2 separate regions of the Homo sapiens genome follow, and region 1 is linked to region 2. Evidence: fine-mapped expression QTL. Tissue or cell type: whole blood. Region 2 holds a variant in brackets; the other region holds the start of a gene. All regions are shown on one strand. Distances are from middle to middle.

The links.
Region 1: it holds the start of NEK6, and the variant in region 2 is fine-mapped to the expression of NEK6 in whole blood (INTERVAL, PIP 0.97).

The regions. Positions count from the first base shown.
Region 1 is chr9:124,256,166-124,259,071 of GRCh38, reverse strand. It overlaps NEK6 (NIMA related kinase 6), which reads right to left and starts at 1,123. Exons shown (of 10, transcript NM_014397.6): 1 at 987-1,123. RefSeq lists an enhancer at 1-506 and silencers at 544-913, 974-1,103.
Region 2 is chr9:124,231,950-124,234,855 of GRCh38, reverse strand. No RefSeq gene overlaps it. Among named protein-coding and RNA genes, the nearest start is that of NEK6, 25 kb to the left of the region's middle. The variant G/A (reference allele first, on the strand shown) is at 1,581.

The sequences.
Region 1 (2,906 bases), 24 kb before region 2:
ATTCACACTTGGAGCCTAGGAGAGGTATAAATAAATCAAAAGATCCGTCTACTTAGCAGGGCAGGCAGAGAGGCCCCCACATACACAGGCAAGTCTAGGGTCAGCCCCCCAGGCCTGGCTGGAGAGAGACAAGAACAAAGACAGGAGAGCCTGGAGGATATTTAGGAAAACACACGTCCTCGGGTGCCCGGCCGAGGGGCCCACCACAGCCTCCGCTCGCCCAGCCTGTGTATGCAGAGAGGGTCCTGCCAGTGGCCCTGCCGCAGCCTGGCTCTAAGACCTTTGCCTCTGTCAGGCCCAGCCAGGCTCTGAGTCTGCCCTCCTGGCCCCTGGTTCACCGGATCAGGCCCAGCCCCGACCCCCAGCCCATGCCAGGCCGCTTCTCTCTCCACGGGCTCCCTGGCTCGGGGGCCATCACTGTGCAAAGGCCTGGTGGGCGCAAAGGGGGCCGGCCCCTCAACCTCAGTAATAAACACGCTCGCACGGCCCTGCACACTCGTTATACTCACACCCACACAGGCATACTTTCGCCCTTCTAGGCTCACGCATGTGCTTGCACACAAATCACTTTGGAATGCACACACGTGCACACACACACTCCCTGAGACCCGCACGTACTCCCTGCGGCGCCCGGCACACTCCTCCGCCCGTCGTCCCCACTCGGGAAGTGGGTAGCGGGGAGCCATGCCCGCGTCCCCGCACGCACTCACCCCAACAACGCCACCAGACGCTCCGGGGTGCACACGCACACCCGCCGGGGACGCGCACACCCCGGGACACGCGGACACGCCGCCCCCGCCCGCCCGGCCGCCGACACGCTCAGCCCCGCGCGGCCACACTCGCGCCCGCCTCCCGCTCTCCCCCGCGGAGCCGTGGGCGCGCGCCCGCCCTCGGCCCGGCTGGGGGTGACGGCCCCGCCGCCCGGCCCCCGCCCTTCTCCGGGCCGCGGGGCCCCACCGGCCCGGCCCCAGCCCCAGGCGACTCACCGGCGCGCGGGCGGGCTCGGCTGCCGCTGGGGGACCGGTGCGCTGGCCCGCGGGCGGCTGGAGCGGTGCGTCCCACACGAGTTTGCGGCGCAGCGGCCGCACGCCCGTCAGCTCGGTTCCGCCGCCGCCGCCACCGCCTGCGCGGGCCCGCGCGCCCGCGCGCCCGCCCCTCCCCGCCGCGGGGCCGCGCCGCCCCCAGCGCTCGTGCGCGCTGCCGCCACGCAAGCTTGAGGGGCGGGGGGCGCCCCGGCGGCGTCCTTCCTGGGCCTGGACCCCTCGACTCCGCCGAGTTCTGCGGCCGATCCGCTCGGCCGAGGAACCCCTTCCCCATTTCAGAGATGGGAAGACTGAGGCCCAGACTCACAGGGCGCAGGCCGGCGTCTCCCCATCTTCTCCGGCTCTAGACTTATGATGAGGGTCTGCAGTCAGCCAACCCTTGGACTCCTGTGCGTCTTCGGATTCCCCATCGCCTAGCATTGCTCCTACCACAGCCCTAGTCATACTGAAATTGGCACAGTAACAAGCACTTATTGTGCACCAGCTGAATGCAGGCACTGAAGTAGGCTCCAAGAGTATTCCGATGAGGGGAAGGCCCTGCCCCCTGCCCTCAAAGTGCCAGCGACTCTTCATCTGGAGCTCCCACTTCCTGTGGCCCCCGGGGGACCAGCAAGAGCCAATGTGCAGAGGTTTCTGGAAGTAGTAAAAGTCCCCACTAAAGAATGTTGAACGCCCCCTCTAGAAGTCAGAGCCTCCCTGAGACCCAAGCAGCTCAGTTCTCACTTCACCTCCTCCCCGCACCGAGAGCGGCCGCTCCTGGCTGGGCTGTTTCCACCCCTGCTGCCTCCCCTCCACATTCAAAACTGTGCTGCACCCCAGGAGGGCTGGAGCCAGGGACACTGACTGCCTGCTTGGGCGCAGCACTGTACTGGGCACAGGGTGAATGCCCGTCTGGCTTCTGTTTGCCAAATGAGTGGAAGTGCTTCAACTGGCCGTGATCTGTAATAATGACACCAACGGAGCGTCCACCACGTGTGCCAACGTTACCCTTGTGCCCATTTTACAGATGGGCTTTGAGGCTTAGAAATGAAATTTCAGGCTGGGTGCGGTGGCTCACACCTGTAATCCCAGTACTATGGGAGGCTGAGGTGGGAGGATGCCTTGAGGCTGGGAGTTTGAGGCCAGCCTGGGCAATATAGCAAAACCCCATGTCTACAGAAAAATGTAAGAATTAGCTGGGTGTGGTAGTGCCTGCCTGCAGTCCCAGCTACTCGGGACGCTGAGGCGGGAGGGTCTCTTGAGCATAGGAGTTAGCAGCTGCAGTGAGCTATGATCGCACCACTGCACTCCAACCTGGACAACAACAATAAAAAGCAAATTCTTTTGTTCAAAGTCACCCAGATGGTAAGTGGTTGAGCTGGAAAGTGCACGGCAGATTGTCTAATTCCAGTGCCTGTGTGGCCAATCACTAGGCAGCCCTGCCTCAGGAACAGCATAGCCCTGGGCTTCTGGAACAAGAGGGCAGACGAGGCAGCAGCTGGCCCACAGGAGCGGGCCTGGTCCCAGCTCTTGTGGATGAAAATGCAGACATCACAAACCAATGGGGAGGAAATGGATTGTTCTGCAAATTGTTTAGCCGTTTAGCTGGAGATCTGTTTACAGCCTTGCCTCCCATGATATACACCACAATAAATGTCAGACAGATTGAAAAGTTAAATAGAAGAAATAAACACTGCAACAAATAATAGAAAGAAATCGAAGTTCTGAGACAGCGTATTGCAGTGTTACTAGAGGATTTGTGATACTGGCCATATTCATGCAGCAAACATTAGTTCAGTCATTGGTTCACCCGACACATCTATGAGCACCTTCCATGGGCCAGGTACTTTTCTAGGCACTGGGATAAAGGAGTGAACAAAATAT
Region 2 (2,906 bases):
ATGTATATCAAAAATAGACTTTATTTGGCAATGGCGTATTTCAAGCATGAACACCATATTTTGGAAAACAATAGATTTGACACATATTTGTTACCTAATGTTTTCACAGCAGAAGGCTAGAACAAAATTTGACTTGCTTTCCACAGCTTTTAGAAATTTTTAACCGAGAATATCACTAAACAGCATGAAAGACATTTTCTTGGTGAGGCACTACTTTGCCAATCTTTTTTCACTCCTTTTTTTTTCCTTTCCATGTTTCTTTCTCAGCTTTTCTTACTATTTTTGCTTGGTTTTTAATACTTCAGCCTATTTCATAGACCTCCCAGTGACACCCTTAGGTGTTGCTTTATTTAAACAGTGTACTCAAAGCCAAACATATTATGGCTGGACACAGTGGCTCACGCCTGTCATCCTGGCACTTTGGGAGGCCGAGGAGGAAAGATCACTTGAGGTCAGGAGTTTAAGACCAGCCCGACCAACATGGTAAAACCCCATCTCTACTAAAAATACAAAAATTAGCTGGGTAGGTGTGATGTCACACACCTGTAATCCCAGCTACTCGGGATGCTGAGCCAGGAGAATCACTTGAACCCAGGAAGTGGAGGTTGCAGTGAGCCAAGATTGCTTCACTGCACTCCAGCCTGGGCCACAGAATGAAACCCTGTCTTACAAAAAAAAAAAAAAGACCGGGTGTGGTGGCTCACGCCTGTAATCCCAGCACTTTGGGAGGCTGAGGTGAGTGGATCACTTGAGGTCAGGAGCTCAAGACCAGGCTGCCCAATATGGCAAAACTCTGTCCCTTCTAAAAATACAAAAATCAGCTGGGCGTGGTGGCACACACCTGTAATCCCAGGTACTCGGGAGGCTGAGGCATGAGAATGGCTTGAACTGGTGAGGTAAAGGTTGCAGTGAGCTGAGATCGTGCCACTGCATTCCAGCCTGGGCAACAGAGCTAGACTCTGTCTCAAAAAAAAAAAAAAAGCCAACACATTTTATTATTTCAATGCTGATGACAGTTTTATTGGTTTTGCTACATATATGCTAACATGAAATCACTAACATACATATTCACATAATAAAATTTTAGGCCGGGCGTGGTGGCTCATGCCTGTAATCCCAGCACTTTGGGAGGCTGAGGCAGGAGGATCACAAGGTCAGGAGATTGAGACCATCGTGGCTAACATGGTGAAACCCCGTCTCTACTGAAAATACAAAAAATTAGCCAGGCGTCGTGGTGGGTGCCTGTAGTCCCAGCTGCCGGGTAGGCTGAGGCAGGAGAATGGCGTGAACCTGGGAGGTGGAGCTTGCAGTGAGCCTAGATGGCACCACTGTACTCCAGCCTGGGCGACAGAGTGAGACTCCGTCTCAAAAAAAAAAAAAAAAAAAAAAAATTAACTGCTAGTTTCTCAAACTAAAAGAGAGAAAAAGTAATGTTTTCCCTCTTTTTTTAAACTTGTATTTTTGGTTTGGGGGTACATGTGAAGGTTTGTTACATAGGTAAACATGTGTCATGGGGGTTTGTTGTACAGGTTATTTCATCACCCAGCTATGAAGCCCAGTACCCAATAGTTATCTTTTCC[G/A]CTTCCCTTTGTTTCTTCTTGAGAACTTTGCTAGTTTGTGTCTTTCAAGGAATATGCCCACTTCATCTAAGTTGTCAAATTTGTGGTCATAACTTTGGGCACAATACTTCCTTATTATCTTTTTAATGGTCACAGGATGTGTAGGGATGCCCTCTCTTTCTTTCTTTTTTTTTTTTTTTTTTTTTTTTTTTGAGACAAGGTCTTGCTCTGTCACCCAGGCTGGAGTGTAATGGCGCTATCATAGCTCACTGCAGCCTTGACCTCCTAGACTCAAGGGATTCTCCCACCTCAGCCTCCCAAGTAGCTAAGACTACAAACATGAGCCACCACACCCAGCGAATTTTTTTACTTTTTGTAGAGACAGGGTCTCGCTGTGTTGCCCAGGCTGGTTTTGAATTCCTGGCTTTAAGCAATCCTCCTGCCTCAGCCTCCCAAAGTGTCAGGATTACAGGCAGAGCCACTGCACCCAGGCTTTCATTTTTCTTGTTGGTAATTTGTGTCTTTTTTTTTTTCTTTGAGATGGAGTCTTGCTCTGTCGCCCAGGCTGGAGTGCAGTGGCACTGTCTCGGCTCACTGCAAACTCCACCTCCTGGGTTCAAGCAATTCTCCTGCCTCAGCCTCCCGAGTAGCTGGGACTTCAGGCACACGCCACCACATCTGGCTAATTTTTTGTATTTTTAGTAGAGACGGGGTTTCACTACATTAGACAGGATGGTCTCCATCTCCTCCCCTCGTGATCCTCCCACCTCGGCCTCCCAAAGTGCTGGGATTACAGGCATGAGCCACTGCACCTGGCCCGTGACTTTCTCTTTTCTACTGATTGAAGATGAAGTTTATCAATGTTGTTGATGTTTTCAAAGAGGCAGCTTGTGGTTTCATTTATTTTCTCTCTTGTTTTTCTGTTTTCTAGTCATTGATTTCTACTCTTATCTTATTATTTCTTTCTTTCTACCTGCTTTGGGTTTAATTTGCTCTTCTTTATCTAGTTCCTAAAGGTGGAAGCTTAGCAAATGTATTTATTTTGGGACTTTCTTCCTTTTGAATAAAGCCATTTAATGTTATAACTTTCCCTTTATTGTATTGCTTTATCTGTATCACATAGGCTTAGATATGTTACATTTTCATTGTTATTCAGCTCAAAATATTTTCTAGTTTTCTTTGTGATTTCTTTCTATATATATATATATATATATATATATATATATATATATATATATATACTTTTTTTTTTTTGAGACTGAGTCTTGATCTGTCAATCAGGCTGGAATGCATTGGCACGATCTTGGCTCACTGCAACCTCCGCTTCCTGGGTTCAAGCAATTCTTG